Regions from separate parts of the Homo sapiens genome. Here region 1 is linked to region 2. The links come from fine-mapping of genetic effects on gene expression. A gene starts in region 2. The other region holds a variant in brackets. All regions are shown on one strand. Distances are from middle to middle. Region 1 has its middle 16 kb from the start of DNAH17. Region 2 holds the start of SCAT1 (S-phase cancer associated transcript 1).

Evidence for each region. PIP is the estimated chance that this variant, and not a neighbour inherited with it, causes the effect.
Region 1: its variant is fine-mapped to the expression of SCAT1 in lung (GTEx, PIP 0.94).

The regions. Positions count from the first base shown.
Region 1 is chr17:78,587,538-78,598,413 of GRCh38, reverse strand. No RefSeq gene overlaps it. Among named protein-coding and RNA genes, the nearest start is that of DNAH17, 16 kb to the right of the region's middle. RefSeq lists enhancers at 9,101-9,613, 9,614-10,126. The variant T/C (reference allele first, on the strand shown) is at 5,812.
Region 2 is chr17:78,626,464-78,637,339 of GRCh38, reverse strand. It overlaps SCAT1 (S-phase cancer associated transcript 1), which reads left to right and starts at 5,283. Exons shown (of 5, transcript NR_110849.1): 1 at 5,283-5,350; 2 at 6,910-7,308; 3 at 9,305-9,422. RefSeq lists enhancers at 4,948-5,449, 10,866-10,876.

The sequences.
Region 1 (10,876 bases), 39 kb after region 2:
GATGACTGAGACAGTGAAAGATCTGACTTAACCGACCCCATCTTGCTTCTAACCTCCAAGCTGTCCTTGCTCATTCTTGGCCGTGGGTGGAATGAGCTCATTCCAAAGCTCATTCCTGAACTAGCTTTGGGAGAAACTTAGTTTATAGTTTATAACTCTATGATTTATGGTTTAAAACAAAGACGATAACAGCCCCTTCCCAAGGCAGACCTTCTTGCCTGGGGACTAGATTGCCTTTGTAGGACTAACATGAGCCACAAGATTAGAAATCGTGGTTTAGGAGTCACGTGGCTGGAAGTGACAAGATTCTGACCCTCCCAAAACTGCCGCTCTTGCTTCAGTGATTCTGCCGCAGATGCTATGCTGTGATGTGGATGGCTGAGCATGGACCCTGAGGAGCTTGGCTGTGTGGATTTCAGAGATCTCTGGCTTATGCCTTGTGAGGAAAATGGACATCTTGGATAAGAACATATGTCCCCATTGGGGCTTGGGTTTAGACAACAGATACGAGGCAAAGACCACGGAGCAACCACTGTGACGATTCATAGGTTTGCGAGACATGAGGTGTACATTTTCTGCAATTCAATAGTCTCAGCAACTGACAAAATGGGAGGTGTATAACCTATAGAACTTCTGGGGGTAAATAAGACATCAATCAATACATATAAGGTATACATTGGTTCGGTCTGGAAAGGTTTGGGACAATTCGAAGTTGGGAGCTTCCAGGTCATTCTAAATACCAGTCATGCTGTAAACCAACAGATGCCAGCACGCAAGGCCCAGCCAGCCCGGTAACTAACCATTTGCCTTTTTTAGGGCTTTCTATGAGGTCAGTAAACATTTTGAAAGGCTAAGTAAGGTTTTCCTCTTCCTGTTTCCTTGTGCTCTGAACCTCCCTAACCTGCCCCCTGGGCCTGCTGGCCTGGCTACACACACTGCCCCAGGCAAAAATGGTTGGAGGGATCTGTATGGGACTTTGATGAGAGCTGGTTTAGAGAAGGTGAGGATGGAGGTCAAAGCCACAGAGGCGGCTGAGGAGTGGGTGGGCTATGGGCTTTTTGAATCCGCTACTTGAAGCAGAGGGATGGGGTGGCAGCTGGAGGGGGGTGGCAGCTGGAGGGAGGTGGCCTTGTCTTGTTTTTGAGATGCGGGATTCTATGGCATATTTGCATTTTGGTGGCAGCGAGCTGGTAGACGAGGAGAAAGTGGGGGTAGGGACAATAGCAGGCAAAAAGTTTCTGAGAAGGCAACAGAGAGGAATAGTTTAGAAATGGGAGTTTGCCTCTCCCAATTACTGGGGTGACTGAAGCGGACCCAAATCTAGCCCTCTGCCTGTTTTAAGTAAAGTTTTATTGGCACACAGCCACGCCTATTCACTTACATATTGTCTGTGACTGCTGTAGAACTCCAGTGTCAGAGTTGAAATGCTGCCGCAGAGATCATCTGGCTCTCAAAGCCTAAAGTACACCCTGGCCCTTTGTGGGAGGTTTGCTGACCTCTGCCACCCCTAAGGTAGGCTGTGAACTTGAAGGAAGGGTTAGGGGCAGACCTAGCCCCTTGCAAAATCCTCAAAAATCCCTGTGAGCAGCTGTGAGCTCAGAGTTTTTGCATTTCAGCAAACTCAGAGAACTCAGAGTTTACAAATTTCCAGCCACAGAGAGTTCGCAGCCTGATGAGGAGTTTGCATTTTCCTCTCTCAGGAAGCCGTTTGCTACAGTGCAGATGTGGCCAGGAGGCCAGTGTGTCACACTGATCATGGTGGCATGTGCCTGCAGTCCCATTATGCAGGAGGCTGAGGTGGAAGGATTACTTGAGCCCGGGAGGTCAAGGCTGCAGTGAGCTGCGATCATATCACTCCACTCCAGCCTGGGTGACAGAGTGAGAACCTGTCTCAGAAAAAAAAACGCCAGCTCATATTAATTAAAAAATAGATATAATCCAAAACATATTTTCCGATAAATAGACAAATATACACACTGGGCCCAATACTCATTCCTTACAAGTACAAATTACATGTCTTCCTAAAAAAGAAGCTTCCTAACCATGAGACAGTCAACACTGGTCTTATAAACATAACTGGATGGTGGATTTATGAGCAAAAGAGAAAACTTACAAAATGAAATAAATATAAAAAGCCGTGTTTACTCATTTCTGCTTGTGAGCATAATTTCGCATAGCCCCTGACTCTGTGCTGACATGTAACTCTCCACAAAAATATTTAAAAGACAAAACAAAACACCTGCCCCTTCAACATCTCTTACCTAAGTCACTATATTCCTTAAAAAATACCTGACCTGGCCAGGCGCAGTGGATCACACCTGTAATCCCAGCACTTTGGGCTGAGTGAGCAGCTGTGAGCTCAGAGGTTTTGCGTTTCAGCAAACTCAGAGAACCCAGAGTTTACAGATTTTTGGCCGAGGCCGAGGCAGGCAGATCACCTGAGGTCAGGAGTTCGAGACCAGCCTGACCAACATGGAGAAACCCTATCTCTACTAAAAGTACAAAATCAGCCGGGTGTGGTGGCGCATGCCTACAATCCCAGCTACTCGGGAGGCTGAGGTGGGAGAACTGCTTGAAGCCGGGAGGCGGAGGTTGCCGTGAGCTGAGATCGTGCCATTGCACTCCAGTCTGGGCAACAAGAATGAAACTCTATCTCAAAAAAAAAAAAAAAAAAAAAAAACCTGACCCCTTGTTGTTTCCTACACACATGGTAACCACTGATGAGAGTCACAATGTTGATGAGAAAACCAAACTCTGTAAAATATTCAGAGATGCTTATCCTGAGCCAACATGAGCAACCACAGTGGCAGAACTGTCTCAAGAGTTCCTGAGAAAGTGTGCCCAGGGTGGTGAAGTTACAATTTGGTTTTATACTGTTGACAAAAAAGAGTCAAACTGTGTGAAATATTTGAAGAGATTTATTCTGAGCCAAATATGAGTGACCAGTGGCCCCCGGAGATCCTGAGAACGTGTGTCCACGGTGATTGGGTTCCAGCTTGGTTCTATACATTTTATGGAGACATGAGGCATCAGTCATTACACGTAAGATGTACATTGGTTGGGTCCAGAAAGGCGGGACAACTGGAAGTCGGGGTGGGGGTTGGGGGGACTTCCAGGTCATAGGTAGATTCAAAGATTTTCGGATTGGCAATTGGTTTAAAGAGCTATTCTCTAAAGACCTGGAATGTCTGGGTTAAGATAAGGGGTTGTGGAGACCAAGGTTTTACCACACAGACGAAGCCTCCAGGAGGCAGGCTTCAGAGAGAATAGATGGTAAATGTTTCTTATCAGATCTAAAGAGTCTGTTCTATCAGTCTTAGGGTCTCTGTGTTGATGTTACTGCTGGTCAGCTGTGCCTGAGTTCCAAAGGGAAGAGGACATAATGAGGCATGTCCAACATCCCCTTCTAGGCTGGAGTTCCAGACCAGCCTAGGCAACATAGCGAGACTCTGTCTCTTAAAAAAAAGGTATCCCAGTTTGTGTAACAGATTCTGTGATTACCTTTTCCGTGTAATAGGCACTCTCAGAAAATATCTTCTGAATTGAATGGAATAATTTGGAACATAACGAAGTAATAGTTTTGCTAAAATGTTTAAAGTGTTGAACTGTTTTTCAGGTTGACTTTGGAAAGCCCTTGGCCAAGAGGAGAGGTCCATTCAGATGATGGGGGAGCTTAGAATTGTATTTTTGGTTTACAGTGCATTTTAGGGAGACCAAAGTTACAGGCAAAGACATAAATCAGTACATGGAGCGTATACATTGGTTCAGCCTAAAGTGGTGGGATACCTTGAAGTGGGAGTTGGAGGGCTTACAGGTCACAGGAAGATTCAAAGATTTTCCAATTGGCAATTGGTTGAAAGAGTTAAGCTTTGGCTAAAGTCTTGAGGTCAGTAGAAAGAAATGCTTGAGTTAAGATAAGGGGGGTTGTGGAGACCAAGGTTCTTGTTGTATAGATGAAATCTCCAGGTAACAGCCTTCAGAGGAAATAGGTGGTCAATGTCTCTTTTCAGACCTTAAACGTGTCAGACTCTTAGTATTTCCTAGATCTGGGAAAGACCTGGCTGCATTAATGGTGCTTTTCTACAGAATGCAAATTTCCCTCACAAAAGACAGCTTTGTAGGGCCGTTTCAACATATGTCACGCCAGTAATCCCAGCACCTTGGGAGGCCTAGGCGGGCGGATCATCTGAGGTCAGGAGTTCGAGACAAGCCTGGCCAACATGGTGAAACCCCGTCTCTACTAAAAATACAAAAATTAGCTGGGTGTGGTGGTGGGCGCCTGTCATCCCAACTACTCGAGAGGCTGAGGCAGGAGAATCATCTGAACCCAGGAGGCGGAGGTTGCAGTGAGCTGAGATGTGCCACTGCACTCCAGCTTGGGCAACAGAGCGAGACCCTGTCTCCAAAAAAAAGAAAAAAATATATTGTGGGGTAAAATATTTTGATTTCCTTCAGGGTCTGCCATCTGTCATGTGATACTACACCAGGGCCAAGTTGGAACATGGTATCTCATTGCCACAGGAGTCTCTTCTGCCAGACTTCTGATCTCTTTTCTAACCTTAGTGCTGGTCATCTGTGCCTAAACTCCAAAAGAGAGGGGATAGAGACCATCCTGACTAACATGGTGAAACCCCGTCTCTACTAAAAATACAAAAAAGTAGCCAGGTGTGGTGGAGGGCGCCTGTAATCCCAGCTACTCAGGAGGCTGAGGCAGGAGAATCGCTTGAACCTGTGAGGTGGAGGGTGCAGTGAGCCAAGATCGCGCCACTGTACTCCAGCCTGGGCAACAGAGCGAGACTCCGTCTCAAAAAAAAAAAAAAAAAAAAAAACAGAAACAAAAAAAACAAAGAGAAAGAGAGAGAGGGGATATAAGCAGGTATGCCTCACCTCCCTGGGAGATCGGGCTGGGAATTCAATTTTTCAGGTGACTATGTGGTCAACTTGGCCAAGAGGGGGTTCATTCAGTTGGTGGTGAGGCTCAGGATTTTATTTTTCATTTTTAATAATTATTCTATAATCTACAACCAGATATACTCTTATACCCAAGCTTTAATATAATTTTACACCTACTAAACCCCCACTACCTGTATATAAACTGTAAATTAAAACACTATTTCAAAACAGTCCGACAAACCCCCTCTAAAAGACTTCTCCCAGGCTGTGGTCGGTCTCTAGTCCTCAATAAAACTTCTAAATAAAACTAACTTTGAAATCGTAAAAAATAATTTTTTTCCTTCCTCAACATACTTTAGCACTAGCCAGGCAAGACAAGAAAGGCAGTAAGGACTGTTGCGATTCCTCGTTCCCATCTATAATTTTTTTTTTTTTTTTTTTTTTTTGAGAGAGAGTCTCCCTCTGTCACCCAGGCTGGAGTGCAGTGGTGTGATCTCAGCTCACTGCAATCTCCGCCTCCTGGGTTCAAGCGATTCTCCTGCCTCAGCCTCCCCAGTAGCTGGGATTACAGGCGCATGCACGCCCGGCTAATTTTTGTATTCTTAGTAGAGACGGGGTTTCACCATGTTGGCCAGGCTGGTCTCAAGCTCCTGACCTCAAGTGATCCACCTGCCTCGGCCTCCCAAAGTGCTGGGATTACAGGCGTGAGCCACCGCGCCCTGCCCCCATCTGTATTTTTAATAGAGATGGGGTTTCACCACGTTTGCCAGGCTGGTCTCAACTCCTCCTAGTTCCCTATTGCTTAAGAAGCCTTCAGGGAGGGAGGCCAGACTGCACGGAAACGCGCCTTGGGTAATTAATTCCCAAAGCTGGGTTGCGCCATCCACCGCGGTGCTTGACGCGGGGTCAGGAGGCGGC[T/C]TCCGGAGGCCAGCTAGTCTCTGCAGCGCGGATAATCTTCCCTCCCCACCGCAGGAGTCTGGTGCTCCTCAGAGATGAGCCCTGTCACAGTGGAATAAATGTCCTTGGGGTAGATTTCGAGACAGACAGACGTGAGTCAAACCACAGGCAGGAAATTTCATTTCCAGACTGCGCTCAAATTCTTTTTTCCTGACTCATGACATTCAAAACACATTTCATTTTACAGACCAAGCTGAGCGCCCTTCGGCCAGAGGCCCCGACCCCAGGGCCATGTGGTTCACTCCCTTCCTTCCCTTCAAGTTCAGAGTTAAACTTGAGAGCTTCCTGCAAACAGGACCAAAGGTCAACAGAAGCGCGGGGCAGGAAGGGGAGGGTGCTCTCTGAATGGGGGAAGCCCAGTGCCTTGCCGCTTTTTGACATCATTTGGACTCAGATATTTAACTTACAGCACTTGATTTTCATCATAGAGTTTTTTTTTTCCCAATATATTATAAACCAAGTCACTGAGGAAGAGATTATTCTATAATACAGTTTAGGGTTTAAAAAAATATATTCCAGGGCCGGGCACAGTGGCTCACGCCTGTAATCCCAGCACTTTGGGAGGCCAAGGCAGGTGGATTACCTGAGGTCAGGAGTTCGAGACCAGCCTGGCCAACATGGTGAAACCCCCCCCCCGTCTCTACAAAAAATACAAAATTAGCTGGGTGTGGTGGTGCACACCTGTAATTCCAGTTACTCTGGAGGCTGAGGCAGGAGAATCACCTGAACCCGGCAGGCGGAGATTGCAGTGAGCCGAGATTGTACCATTGCACTCCAGCCTGCACAAGAGTGAAACTCTGTCTCAAAAAAAATAAATAAATAAAATATATATATATATATATATATATATATATTCCAAAGAAAAGGGGTCTTTGTCCCTTTAAGGAAAGAAATTTGGTATTTCCAGATGTCTGGTAGAAGTTGAGCTACAACATGCTGGAAGCCCGGGGAGGGACCATTGACCTCCTAGAGCCCAGCCTGTCCTTGAATCCCCACCCAGCGAAGATGTGAAGTGAGCTGGGGCAAGGGGCATGATGAGCGGACGGACGGCCCGGAAAAGCCCAGGTAGGCGCCGGGCACTCCCTCTCTCCCTGCAGCAGCAGGAGGCACAGGCTGCAGGGTCACAGCCAGGGTCTCTCCTGCTAGGGAAACAGTCACCGTGAGCGAGCCCAGCCACCATGGCAGAGGTGACAGGTACTCCCGAGTTCTGAGCGCTCCTCTATCGTTCTGCTGTGCGCCTGGCTGCTCACCGGAAAGCATTTGTCTCTGAGTCCAATCCGCCCTGATTTCTCATTTGTTTGGTTGGTGATGGTTCTGCTGAAATAGACCCAGAGCAGCAAGGGTCACTTCTGAGGAGCGTGGACCCATGGAGCAAAGATTCCCCGCCCTGTGTGTACTTGGACCCAAACAGGTGCTTTGAAAGCCTCCACGCTTGGCCCCGACCCTCCAGTGCCCTTAATTCTCAAAGCGTCCCAGGTGATTCTGCCCGTGGCTAAGCAGAGAACCTCAGCCTTAAGTTACACCTGCCACTCAGGTAACCCGTGGGGCTTGTTGAAGGCAACTCAGGCCTCAGGTGTGAATGACCATAAAGCAGGGAAGGCTGGGCGTGGGGGTTCATACCTGCGCGCCGAGAACTTCGGGAGGCCGAGACAGGAGGATTGTCTGAGACCAGGAGCTTGAGACCAGCCTGGGCAACAACGTGAGTCTTACTTTTTTGTCTCTACAAAAAATAAAATTAGCCAGGCGTGGTGGCAAGGGCCTGTAGTCTCAGCTACTCGGGAAGCTGAGATGGGAGGATTGCTTGAGTCAAGGCCAGCCTGGGCAATATAGAAATACCCTTTCTTTCAAAAAATTAAAAAATAAAAAAAGCCAGGCATGGTTGTGTGCCCCTGTAGTCCCAGCTACTCAGGAGCTGAGGTGGGAGGTTGGTTTGAGCCCCAGATGTCAAGATTGCAGCGAGGTATGATTGTGCCACTGCACTCCAGCCTGGGCAGACAGCAAGACCCCTAAAATAGGGAAACACTGAAAGCCTTTTTAACAAGGATAACTGGCTACTTTCAGTGAATTTGCTTAAAACAGAAACCAAAATTTTACTCTAAATCAGTGACTCTCAAACCTTAGCCTGCATCAGAGTCCATTGGGGGCTTGTGAAATACAGATTGCTGCCCCACAATCTGGGGTGGCCCCGGGCTCTGTGATCCCAACGAGAATCCAGCTGATGCAGAGGCTGTTGGCCCAGGGGCCCCACTCTGAGAACCTCCGCTCTAAGTGGAGTGGCGGTGGGGGGGGGTGGGGAATAAAAATGAAAATTATAGAAGACTTGTGTTATCTAATTAATAAAAATGCAGGTTGCAGGTGCTGTCAGTTCTCAGCATAATCACAGCATGACCGAGCAGAGAGGAAGGGCAGGGAGGGGCGGCCCCATGCCTGCGGGCCGGACTGCCTTCTCAGCACGCGTCAGATGGACCGATGCCACCTGAAGGTGCTTGCGGTGGACACAGAATGTGCGGATGGGGAGATGGCAGGAGGGACAGGGCTTGGCGATGCTGACATCACAGGCAGCCCATGTGAAGTGGAAGGGTTCCTACTGAGGGCTGAGAACAGACACCAGCCCCCAGGAGCCAGACCACGCCCCAGGGGAGGGACGCGCCCTGCCTGGAGTCCTGAGAATCTACCTTTCCTCCTCCCCCAGATTCAGAACCCCCTTATTATGCTGAGGCCTGACAAAAGGCTCCCTCCTTGACCCAACTTCAGGCAGACTCTGCTGAGCCCTCTTTTTTTTTTTTTTTGAGACAGAATCTCACTCTATCACCTAGGCTGGAGTGCAGTGGTGCGATCTCGGCTCACTGCAACCTCTGCCTCTCTGGTTCAAGCGATTCTCCTGCCTCAGCCTCCCAAGTGGCTGGGATTACAGGCGCCTGCCACCACGCCTGGCTAATTTTTGTATTTTAGTAGGGACGGGGTTTCACCATGTTGGCCAGGCTGGTCTCAAACTTCTGACCTCAGGCAATCCACCCGCCTCGGCCTTCCAAAGTGCTGGGATTACAGGCGTGAGCCACTGTGCCTGGCCCACTGAACCCTCTTTTGATAAGGCCTCCGTTCTCGAGCCCGGTCCTCAGCCTGCCCACGCCAGTCTCAGCAGAGAATCCTACTGAGTCACCCCAACCCTTGAAATCTGATCGAGTTCCTCAGCACCTCTGCTTTCCCCCGGCCATATCCAGGTCCTTGGTCTGCCTTTAGCAAGAACCCCCACTTGAAGTTCTCCTCTTAGCAATTTTCCATCCACTGACCCCTCGCTGCTCATGGCTGTAAGTCCCCATCTGCAGGGTGGTGTTGGGATCAAGTTCGGCTCTTTCCCCGGTTGCAACATCCCGTATATGGTCTGTCCCTATCTCTTTGAGTCTACATGAGGTGTGTCTGTGACCACTGCCTGTGCCCCAGGTACGTCTCCCTGTGTGGGCGGAGGCAAACTCCTCCAGAGACCCCACACTGTTTCCCAGCCTGGATGGCTTGGAATCCATGCATTTCTGTGCTTTGTTGGGGGCCTCACCCTTAGGACCTGTGTGCAGAGACTCCTAAAGAGAAAAGGTTCCCAGGTCTCCACAGCGTGTACCCTTGCTGTGACCTTTGGAAACCTGGCTGGCAGGGACTTCTCTGGCCGCGGTGTCCTGCCCCTGAAGGGAAGGGTGGTCTACCTGGCCAGCCTGACTGCTCAGGCCCAGCCCTCCCTTTCCACCCAACTTCAAGGGTAAGGACGCGCCTGGGCAGGAGGACAAAGGCCACCTCCTGTTCCTCTGCTGGGAACGCAGCAGGAGGACACGCGGCAGGGCCCCAGTAGACAGAGGGAGGTGGGGAGCCTGATGAAACACAGACGGCCCGGCCTCTCCTGTCTGCAAGCATCCCCGGCAGCGGGAAAGGGACCTGCGATTTTCTTTAATGATGGGTAATGTCTTCATGAAATTTGCCTTCCAAGTTCATTCAGCTGGGAGGAAGTGTTGCCCCTGGGGATGACTGAGTTCTCTCAGCTCATCCCGGCCCTACCTCGATGTGGGCTGTGACTGACAGAAGCAAAAAAAGAGTGAAGGGCATCCTCGGCTGGTGGCCCTGGCAGGGAGGACTGAAGCCAGACACCCACTCCCCTGCCCCCAATCCAACACCCAGCCAGGAAGAGAAACATGAGGCAAGTGCCTGTCAATCAAGGAAAATGAGCCAGGTGAGTCTCAATCATTTCAGGAGGTTTATTTGCCAAAATTAAGGACATATGCCTGGGAGGCAGGTCTATGCTTTTCTCTGAAGATGATTTTGAGGGCTTCAATATTTAAAGGGAAAAGGGCAGGCTATTGAGAAATACAATTTTCTTTCTCTTCTTTTTTTTTTTTTTTGGGAGATGGAGTTTTACTCTGTTGCCCAGGCTGGAGTGCAGTGGTGCAATCTCAGCTCACCACAACCCCCATCTCCTGGGTTCAAGTGATTCTCCTGCCTCACCCTCCCTAGTAGCTGGGACTACAGGTGTACATCATCATGCTCAGCTAATTTTTTTGTAGTCATAGTGGAGACGGGGTTTTACCATGTTAGCCAAGCTGGTCTGGAACTCCTGACCTCAAGTGATCCACCTGCCTCGGCCTCCCAAAGTGCTGGGATTACAGGTGTAAGCCACTGTGCCCAGCCAGAAATACACAGTTTTCATGTGAGAGGGAGGTAGGGGAAAATAGTCATTCATGCCTTTGTCTGGCTTGGTGAATCTGCATTGTTACCTAAGATAACGTAGACAATGGGGCAGAGGAAGCAATCAGCTATGCACTTGCCTCAGGTGGGCAGAGGGATGTCTCAGTCAGTGCAGTGTCTCCCCGACACCTGTGAAGGTAAGCTATCAATTGACATTGCCATGGTGAAATTTAACAGAAACCCTTTAGGGTAAAGATCTTGGGGCCCACAAGAAATTTCACTCAAAAAAATGAGTGAAGGGGGCCCTTGGCTGGTGGCCCTGGCAGTGAGGACTGAAGCCAGACAACCCCACACACACCAA
Region 2 (10,876 bases):
TGTTGGAACGCCAAGGTAGGGGGCTAGATCTGGCGGCCGTGGACCGGGAAAGCTTCGCAACTGGTTCTCATTCTACGTAAGTCTTGGGAGATGGGGTAAAATTTCAATTTGAGCAGTTCAGGGAGAGTGTGAAGTGGCTTTTAAGATGAATCTTGGAGGAGAGGAGGGATTGTCTTTGAAAGGGGCAACATGTCCCAGTAGAGGAAATTTAAAAATCGGTTTTACAGAAAAAAGAAAAAGATAGTTTTCTTTCCCTATTTATTTATTTATTTTTTTGGTGGGGGGATGGAGTCTCTGTCACCAAGCTGGAGTGCAATGGCACGATCTTGGATCACTGCAGTCTCTGCCTCCTGGGTTCAAGCAATTCTTCTGCCTCAGCTTCCTGAGGAGCTGGGACTACAGGTGCGCGCCACCATGCCAGCTAATTTTTGTGTTTTTAGCAGAGGTGGGGTTTCACCATATTGGCCAGGCTGGTCTTGAAATCCTGACCTCGTGATCCACCTGCCTCGGCCTCCCAAAGTGCTGGGATTACAGGCATGAGCCACCACGCCCAGCCCCCTCATTCTTTTTGAGGCCACGCTTGATATTTGGTTTTCTGTGCTTTTTTTGCAATGAGGGTTGACAGCTTGGCTCCTGGCTGCCGTGGATGATTGAGTCATTACCTTGGCTCCAAAACCAAGTTATTGGTTAAACTACATCAAGATGAGAGCTGGAGTTCCTAGATTGTTCCTAGATTATCATCCAAAAGCACTGTTTAGTATATTTCTTCACTTTGGCATATTTCCTCCCCTCTCATCTTCACTTGCATTTCTTCACCCTGTGCCTACTCACCTGTTTAGCTTTTTCACCAAACAGGAAATTTATTAGGGCAAATCTCGAACCTCAAGGCGTCCTTGGGTAGTGTGGCCCGCCATTGTCTCCCGGGCCAGTAATTGAATCCAGTGATTTCACTTATTTTATGTAATTTATTCTGAAAACTTAGTCAAAAAAATAAATATGACAGTTTTTAATATAAATAAGTAGAATTTATCTCAATATAAATCAGCAGCCAGGTTTAAACAATTCTGTTAAAATATACATAACATAAAATTGGCCACTTTTACCATTTTAAGTGCACTATCCTGGGCATTCAGTCCATTCACGTTGTTGTGCAGCTGCCGCCACCATCCACCTGCAGAACTTCTTCTATCCCAAACTGAAACTCCACACCCACGAAACACTCACTCCCCATCCGCCCTGCCCCGGCCTCTGGTAATCGCTAATCTACTTTCTGTCTCTACGAATTTGACTCCTCTAGGTGGTCAATTTATACCTCATATAAATGGAATCCGGCAATATTTGGTCTTTCATGTTTGGCTGGTTTTGATTGGCATAATGTCTTCATTTTGTAAACAGCCAGGTTTTTAAGTTTTTGGTTGTGGGCCAGGTGCGGTGGCTCACGCCTGTAATCCCAGCACTTTGGGAGGCTGAGGCGGGTGGATCGCTTGAGGTCAGGAATTCGAGACCAGCCTGGCCAATGTGGTGAAACCGTGTCTCTACTAAAAACACAAAAATTATCCGGGCATGGTGGCTATAACTGTAATCCCAACTACTCGGGAGGCTGAGGCAGGAGAATCCCTTGAACCCGGGAGGTGGAGGCTGCAGTGGGCTGAGGTTGTGCCACTGCACCCCAGCCTAGGTGACAGAGCAAGACTCCATCTCAAAGGAAGTAATATAGACATTCTATTTCTAACTTTTTGTATCAAGTAAGATAGCTATTTAGTTTTATTTTTTCCGAATCATTTCAACACTGTGTATTGTGTAAATCCCCCCATGCTTTCCAATATTATATTTGTCATGTGCTAAATTCTCAGACATACCTGGATCCTTTTTTTTTTTTTTTTTTTGAGACAGAGTCTCACTCCGTCGCCCAGGCTGGAGTGCAGTGGCACGATCTCGGCTCACTGCAAGCTCCATCTCCTGGGTTCACGCCATTCTCCTGCCTCAGCCTCCTGAGTAGCTGGGACTACAGGCGCCCGCCACCACGCCCGGCTAATTTTTTGTATTTTTAGTGGAGACGGGGTTTCACTATGTTAGCCAGGATGGTCTCGACCTCCTGACCTCGTGATGTGCCCACCTCGGCCTCCCAAAGAGCTGGGATTACAGGTGCCCGCCACCACGCCCAGCCTACCTGGGTCTTTTTCTGAACTTCAGTTTTCTTCCACTGATCATTTGTCTATGCTTTGGTCACTGCCATATAGTTTTAATAACAAGAGCTTACTGTACATTTTCTTCTTTGAGGCAGCGTCTTGTTCTGTCTCCCAGGCTGGAGTGCAGCGGCACAATCATAGCTCATTGCAACCTTGAACTCTTGAGTTCATGCAATGCTTCTACCTCAGCCTCCCAAGTAGCTGGGACTATAGGCATGAGCTACTGTGCCCGGCCTGTTTTTATATCTGATAGAGAAAGGTTTCCTGAACATTCTTCTTTTTAAAAATGTTTGGCTAATTTTCTTTCAAGCATTCTTCCAAGTGTACTTTGAAATTCAACTTAAGTTAAAACAAATAAACAGAAAACAACGCAACGTAATTCTGATTGGGTCTGTATTGTATATGGAAGAATTGGCATGTTTTGTATGATTACATTTTTCCTACCCAGGAACACAAAATATCTCTCCTTTTGTTCAGGTACCTTGTCCTCCAGGGAATTACTGCAGTTTTCTACTCCAAGCATTGTTATTTGTTGAGTTTATTTGAAAATTCTTTTTACTTTTAGTAGCTATTTGAAATGGAAAGTTTAAAAGTTTGTGTTTTCTAAATGGTTACTACTGATACATATGTGTAAATACTCATCCGTTTGGTAATTTTTTAGTTACGTAGGCTAGATTTCCTCGTTAATCATGTCATTGGCCAACAGGAACATGTTTATCCCTTCTTCTTCAGCATTTACACCCTCTGGCCCTGGCCTTGGGCATAGGATACAGGACTTCAAGACGGCAGTGCCTCTTCCAGGAAGGCCTCTGGAATTTCATCCCTCAAGATGATAGTGCCTTTGGCTTTTGGTTTCAATATGTACATACATTTTATAACATTAAGCAGGTTTCATTGTTTTTCTGGTTTGCTAAGGATTTCTTTTTTTAGTGAGAACATTTTCTAAATGTTATCAAGTGCCTTTCAGTAGCTATTGAAATGTTACTGAAATGTTCAAATGGTCTCTCACTTTTAGTTTATTCATATAACAATTTATGTGGGTAAATATCTTAATTTGAACCAAACTTATGTTCTGGAATCAAGCCTACTGAGTCATGGGATTTTTTTTTTTTTTTTGAGATGGAGTCTCACTCTGTTGCCCAGGCTGGAGTGCAGTGGCGTGATCTTGGCTCACTGCAAGCTCTGCCTCCTGGGTTCACACCATTCTCCTGCCTCAGCCTCCCAAGTAGCTGGGATTACAGGCACCGCCACCATGCCCAGCTAATTTTTTTGTATTTTTAGTAGAGATGGGGTTTCACTGTGTTAGCCAGGATGGTCTCGATCTCCTGACCTCATGATCCACCTGCCTCAGCCTCCCAAAGTGCTGGGATTACAGGTGTGAGCCACCATACCTGGCCGGGATCACTTTTATTTTTTTAGAGAGAGGGTTTCACCATGTTGCCCAGGCTGGTCTCAAATTCCTGGGCTCAAGCAATCTTCCCACCTTGGCCTCCCAAAATGCTGGGATTACAGGTGTGAGCCACCGCACCCAGCCTCCTAAGGATCATTTTTAATAGGGACAGTTACTGCCCACTTGCTGATGGTTGATTTGGGTTCTTGAATCTCTCATTTCCCGTGAGACATTGATCTCTCATTTTCCTTGACTACTTTGGTCAGTCTTTGCTAGCAAAGCCTTCACTTTTATAAAATAACCTAGGAAAACCTTCACTTTATAAAAATAACCTCTTGCCTGTAATCCCAGCACTTTGGGAGGCCGAGGCGGGAGAATTGCCAGAGGCCAGGAGTTTGAGACTGGCCTGGGCAATATAGTGAGACCCCATCTCTATAAAAAAAAAGATAAAATAATCTCTTCAGGGGTTCTGTAGTAATTTAAATAACATGGAAATTATATATTCATGGAAGGTTTGTCAGAATCGGTAAAATGGTGTTGGCCTGGCGACCTCTGGGGGGAAGGGAGAGGGGGAGAAGTTTGTTTTTGTTTTTGAGACAGTCTCTCTCTGTCGCTCAGGCTGGAGTGCAGTGGCGTGATCTCAGCTCACTGCAACCTCCGTTTCCTGGGTTCAAGTGATTCTCGTGCCTCAGCCTCCCAAGTAGCTGAGATTACAGGTGCCTGCCACCACGCCCTGCTAATTTTTGTATTTTTAGTAGAGACGGGGCTTTGCCATGTTGCCCAGGGTGGTCTCAAACTCCTGGGCTCAAGTGACCTGCCCGCCTTGGCCTCCCCAAGTGCTGGCATTACAGGTGTGAGCCGCCCACCGTGCCCAGCCTGTTTTTGTTTTTTTGATTTTTGTTTTTGGCTCAAACCAGCAGTCCCCAACCTTTTTGGCACCAGGGATGAGTTTTGTGGAAGAAAATTTTTTCCATGGATGGGGGCAGGGGTGGGGGATGGTTTCAGGATGATTCAAGCACATTACATTGATTGTGTACTTTATTATCATTACATTGTAATATATAATGAAATCCTTATACAACTGCGCTATCATGAAGAATCAGTGGGAGCCCTGAGCTTGTTTTCCTGCAACTAGACAGACCCATCTGGGGGTGATGGAGATGGTGACAGGTCATCAGGCATTAGATTCTCATAAGAAGTCCACAACCGCTGGGCGCGGTGGCTCAGGGGCTGGGCTCGGAGGCTCACGCCTGTAATCCCAGCACTTTCGGAGGCCCAGGAGGGCAGATCACGAGGTCAGGAGATCGAGACCATCCTGGCTAACACGGTGAAACCCTGTCTCTACTAAAAATACAAAAAAATTAGCCAGGCATGGTGGTGGGCACCTGTAGTCCCAGCTACTCAGGAGGCTGAGGCAGGAGAATGGCGTGAACCCGGGAGGCGGGGCTTGCAGTGAGCCGAGATTGCGCCACTGCACTCCAGCCTGGGCGACAGAGCGAGACTGTGTCTCAAAAAAAAAAAAAAAAAAAAAAAAAAAAAGCCCACAACCTAGATCCCTCGCATGCGCAGTTTACAATACCGTTCGTGCTCCTCTGAGAATCAAATGCCACCACTGATCTGACAGGAGGCGGAGTTCTGCGGTAACATGAGTGATGAGGAGTGGCTGCAAATACAGATGAAGCTTCGTTTGCTCACTTCCTGTTGTGTGGCCCAGACAGGGCACTGTCTGTGGCCCCAGGGGTTGAGGACCCCTGGCTTTAACAACAGAAAGGTACCATCTTACAGTTCTGGAGGCCAAAGTCTGATATCCAGGTGTCTGCAGGGTTGATCCCTTCTGAGGCTGTGAGCAGGACCCCCTCCAGGCTCTCCTCTGGCCTTTGGTTTCCTTCCTTCCTTCCCTCCCTCCCTCACTCCTTTTCTCTCTCTTTCTTTCCTCCCCTCCCCTCTTCTCCCCTCTTCTCCCCTCCCCTCCCCTCCCGTTCTCCCCTCCCCTCCCCTCTCTTCTCCCTTCCCCTCTTCTCCCCTCCCCTCCCCTCTTCTCTCCTCTTCTCCCCTCCCCTCCCCTCTTCTCTCCTCTTCTCCCCTCCCCTCTTCTCCCCTCTTCTCCCCTCTTCTCTTCTCACTCTTTTGCCCAGGCTGGCGTGGTTTATGTTTGTGGTTTTTCTTTATTTATCTTGCCAGACATTTGCACGTTTTGATGAACTTTTCAAACAGCCAGTTCTTTGCTTTATATTCAATTGTAGACTGAGTTTTCCTGGGGGGTGTTGGAATTGGGGAGGAAGGATCTTTTTTTTTTTTTTTTTTGAGATGGAGTCTCACTCTGTCACCCAGGCTGGAGTCCAGTGGTGTGATCTCCACTCACTGCAACCTCTGCCTCCCAGGTTCAAGTGATTCTCCTGCCTCAGCCTCCTGAGTAGCTGAGATTACAGGCACCTGCCACCACACCCAGCTAATTTTTTGTTTGTTTCTTTGTTTGTTTCTTTGTTTGTTTGTAGAGATGGGATTTCACCATGTTGGTCAGGCTGGTCTTGAACTCCTGACCTCAAATGATCTGCCTGCTTCAACCTCCCAAAGTGCTGGGATTACAGGCATGAGCCACCGTGCCTGGCTGTGATCATTTATCTTGGCTTTTTTCTTAAGTCTTCTTCTGTTTCTGTTCTGCAGTGCATGGTGGCTCGTTTGTGTGAGTTCAACGCTCAGCTGTGCATTGTTTATCTCTTAGAGCAGGTGTGAATTTTCTGTTTTCAACCAGCTATGTGCAAACATGAACTCCTATTTTTATAACTGCTCAGACATTCCTATGACAGGGCCTCATTTCTGCTTGGCAACAAGAAAACTGAATTTAATTTCATTTAATCGGGTAAACAGTTCTGTCGGGTATTTTTCTCTAGCGGAGTCTGGTTGAAAGCTTCATCGCTCACAGAGAACATTCCAGCATTAGTGTCATGGCCTCTGGCCGGTGCAAGGGTTTCTCGGAGCCCAGGTGGCTCCCTGCGGGGAGGAGAATTCGACGCTCTGTCCCCTTCCTCTGCCAGGGACCCACTTACTAGTCTCCGGGGCTGCTGTAATAGAGGAACACAAACTGGGTGGCATCAAACAACATCACATTTCTCACAGTTCTGGAGGCCAAACTGCAACATCAAGATATTAACAGATAATGACCTGCTCCCTCTGCAGGCTGTAGGGGAAGAGCCTCCCTTGTCTTTCCCGGCTTCCAGGGCTGCTGGCCATCCTGGGCGTCCTTTGGCTTGTGGCTGCCTGGCTGCCATCCCTGCACCCGTTGTCGCTTGACCTTCCGTTCATGTGCCTCTGTTCTCTCTCCTTATACAGACCCCAGTTACTGGATTGGGATCCACCCTCACTCAATATGGCCTCAGCTTAATGAAAGACATCTGCAGAGACCCTATTTCTACTAAAAGCCACATTCTGAGACTTCTCGTGGGCGTGAGTTTTTGAGAGACACTGTTCTGCTCCATGCAGGGAGGGAATTGGGATCTGAAGACGTTGCATTCGAGGTCTCGGGGCTCCTGATGAGCAGCCTCGGCCTGACCTGGGGCAGGTGTGATGTCTGCGGCTCACCATCTCCACCCTGCCTGCTGTGGAATCTCCACAACGACAGGTGCTTTGGAGGCCAGAGTGCATGCGTACGGGCCCTGCACACGCTGAATGTCACTGGGAACAAGGACACACCCCGCTTCCAGGAGAAGATAGAACATGTCGACCCCTTTTGTGAGTACAATTTTTTGAAGTCTCCAAAGCAATGGGACTGCCCCGGGGAAGATGGAGGCTGTGAAGGGAGTGTTGACCCCAGTGGGAGGTGAACGGAACGGGATATGCGGGCGCTCGGGGTGGAAGAACGACGTAGGCGGTCAGTGGTCGGTGGGCCATGCCCACATCCGGGCTAGATGTCACTATGGTGCTGTTCTGTTTCCACACAGCCAGACAATGCACAAAATAGGCCATCTGGGCCATCTGGGGCGAACATCCAGCCTGGAGGCCCTCGAACAAGCCCACTGAGGGCCTCCAGTTGGGGGCACACATGGGTGACACCTGGCCTAGTGACGCCCCACCTGGGTTGCACGTTAAAGTCACTGGGGAACTTTTAAAGGGCTGATGTCTGATTTCTCCAGGGATTCCGAGGTGAGCGGGAACGAGGTGCGGTCTGGGCTTGGGGGTTTTAGTGTTGGTCATCCACAGCGACACTGAGAACGGAGGCTCTCTGTGGGTGAGCCCTTGGGGAACCCAGCTGACCAGGCCCCTGGGGTCCCATGAGGCCTAAGTCTGAGAAGACTTGTGTCTCCCAGAGCCTGCGGGCCGTCCCAGGCTTGTACCTCTGGCCCCGCTCTCCGCTCAGGCCGCTGAACAGGGCTGATCCACGTCCTTCAAACAGCTGCTCAGATATTTCAAATCAGCTTTCATGGGCTTTTCCATAGGAAGGGGACGTCTGCTTGCTGAAGCCAGCAGCTGGCCCGGCGGGAGGTGTGTCAGATGTGCTGGGGGAGCCGTGACCTTTCCTGGGTCCCCCACTGCTCAGCGCAGCCGCCTCAGGCACGCAGAGAGGATGGCCGAGGCTGCCAGAGGCCCTGTGGCTAGGTGTGAAGGACCTCTGGGTGCTGGAATCTGCACGTGTTCCTGTGTAGTGCTCAGCCCCTAGAGGACTTGCAGGTGGAGTGGGCGAGGACAAGTTTCTGGGGAGGACAGAGGCCTGGCCCTGGGGTGACAGATGGTGGTGTCACCTCATCCGGTCATTCATGAGCTGTGCACACTGGGCAGGTGGCCCCCTGCAGCCTCCGTTCTGCATTTTTGAAATGAAGGGGGCAGAGGGTGGCGTGCACAGTCTCAGCACATCACTCAGCATGGAGGGGCGCCGGTCATAATAATAAGGATGAAAAATCCCCTCTAGAGTTCCTTACCAGCCATGCGTGGTCCCAGGGCGTTCGCCAGGTTGGCAGTTGATCTAACCCCGCCACCCCAATAACCCAGAGTCAGCGACGCCTGTTGCCTCCACCCCAGCGCTGTGGGACTAAGGCCCAGGCAGGTTCAGTGGCTTGAACAGGTCACCTGGTTGGTGGGCAGGAGAGCAGGCGCCCCCGGCCACCAGTCTCAACGCCTCCTGGGCCCACTTGTGACTAGAATAGTGCTCTTGTGTTGACTATTGACTGACCAGGGCGCCCCTTCCACACCCACTCATCCCTGGGGTTCCTCTAGGGTCCCACGCCTCCTAGGGTCCCTCTGCAGCCTCCACTCACAACTAGAAGCTGAATGACCTTGGTTCTTCCAAATGACCTTTGGAATGACCGATTGTTCTGCTTTCTTCTGAAGACCATATGACACATTATCAGACCAAACCAGAGCTCTTGGTTTTCGGATCTGGGGATGAATTCTTTAGCACAGATGGAACCATGAACTTCTATGATCAACTGCCAGGAAGGAAATACCTCAGGTAATGCCGCTGCCTGCTGCTGATGCGGGGACAGCCAGTTCCCCACGGTCACATCTGCCTGACGATTAGACTAGGGAAGAATTTGGGCAAAACAGCAAGTCTTAAGGTTTGTTTGGAAATGATCAGGCCAAGCAAAGCCAGAGACTGGAAATTGTATTTCCAGATCTTCATTCAGATTCTTTTCTCTATGATTCGTAAAATTAAAAAGATTAAAAATTCACATTTGAATTCCAAAAATTCTTACTTTTTTTTTTTTTTTTTTTTTTTTTTTTTTTGAGACAGGCTCTCGTTCTGTTGCCCAGGCTGGAGTTCAGTGGCATGATCTTGGCTCACTGCAGCCTCGAACTCACAGGCTTAGGTGATCCTCCCACCTCAGCCTCCTCAGTAGCTGGGACTACAGGTATGTGCTACCATACCCGGCTAATTTTTTAAAAAACCTTTAGTAGAGATGAGGTCTTGCTATGTTGCCCAAGCTCGAATAATCCACCACCTCGACCTCCCAAAGTGCTGGGATTACAGGTGTGAGCCATTGCACGCAGCCTCAAAAATTCTTACTATTCTTCTAAAGCCCTCATTGTGTAGTATCTTCTTACCTTTTCCCCCTTTATTCAAAATATTCCAAATCTCTGCCCCTGGAACTGCCTTGTGTCGTCTTTTTTTTTTTTTTTTTTTTTTTGAGATAGAGTTTCGCTCTTGTCGCCCAGGCTGGAGTGTAATGGCATGATCTCCGCTCACCACAACCTCCACCTCCCGGGTTCGAGTGAATCTCCTGCCTCGGCCTCCTGAATAGCTGGGGTTACAGGCACGTGCCACCACACCCAGATAGTTTTGCATTTTTAGGGGGTTTCTCCATGTTAGCCAGGCTGGTCTCGAACTCCTGACTTCAGGTGATCTGCCCGCCTCAGCCTCCCAAAGTGCTGGGATTACAGGCGTGAGCCACTGCGCCCGGCTGCCTTGTGTCTTCTTAAAAGAGGAAGCTGCGGTGTCCTTATCATTTCATGGCTATGTTGATTTCTGTGTAATTGGAGGCCCTGAATTTTCATCCTTAACATTGTCCTCTGGGTGGTGGCCCCAGACGGCTCCGATGGCAGCAGGCACATGTCCAAGCCCGCTCTCCAGCCCCCATCAGGTCCCTGGCTTGATACAGGGCAGCGTCTTCCCATTCTATGAGCACTCAGACTCTCTGCTCAGACACGGTGGGACTCTCCACCCCGGTCCTTGGCGTTCTGATGGGGTCGGCTTCCTGGGGCTCCTGGAACAAATGTTCATGCATTGGGCAGCTGAAAGCAACAGCAGCTGATTCTCTCGCGTCCTGGAGGTCAGAAGCCCAGGATCCAGGTGTCAGTAGGGCTACTCTCTCTCCGAAGGCTCCCAGCGAGGGTCCTACCTGCCTCTTCCAGCTTCCGGTGGCCCCAGGTGTTCCTTGGTATGTGGCGGCGTCACTCCAGTCTCTGCTCCATCTCACATGAACTTCTCCTCTGGGCCTGTGTCTCAAGTCTCCCTCTGCCTTTCTCTGATAAGGACACCAGTCACTGGATATGGGGCATGCCCTAATCTCATATAATCTCATCTCAAAATCCTTAACTTAATTACATCGGCAAAGGTCCTTTTTCCAAGGATTCACAGGTACTAGGAGTTAGGACTTGGTGAATCGTTTTTCCAAGGATTCACATTCACAGGGGCTGGGGTTAGGGCTTAGACATAGCTTTTAAAAAAAAAATGGCTTTAGGCCTGGTGCGGTGGCTCATGCCTGTAATCCCAGCACTTTGGGAGGCCGAGGCAGGTGGATTATGAGGTCAGGAGATCATCAAGACCATCCCGGCTAACATGGTGAAACCCCATCTCTACTAAAAA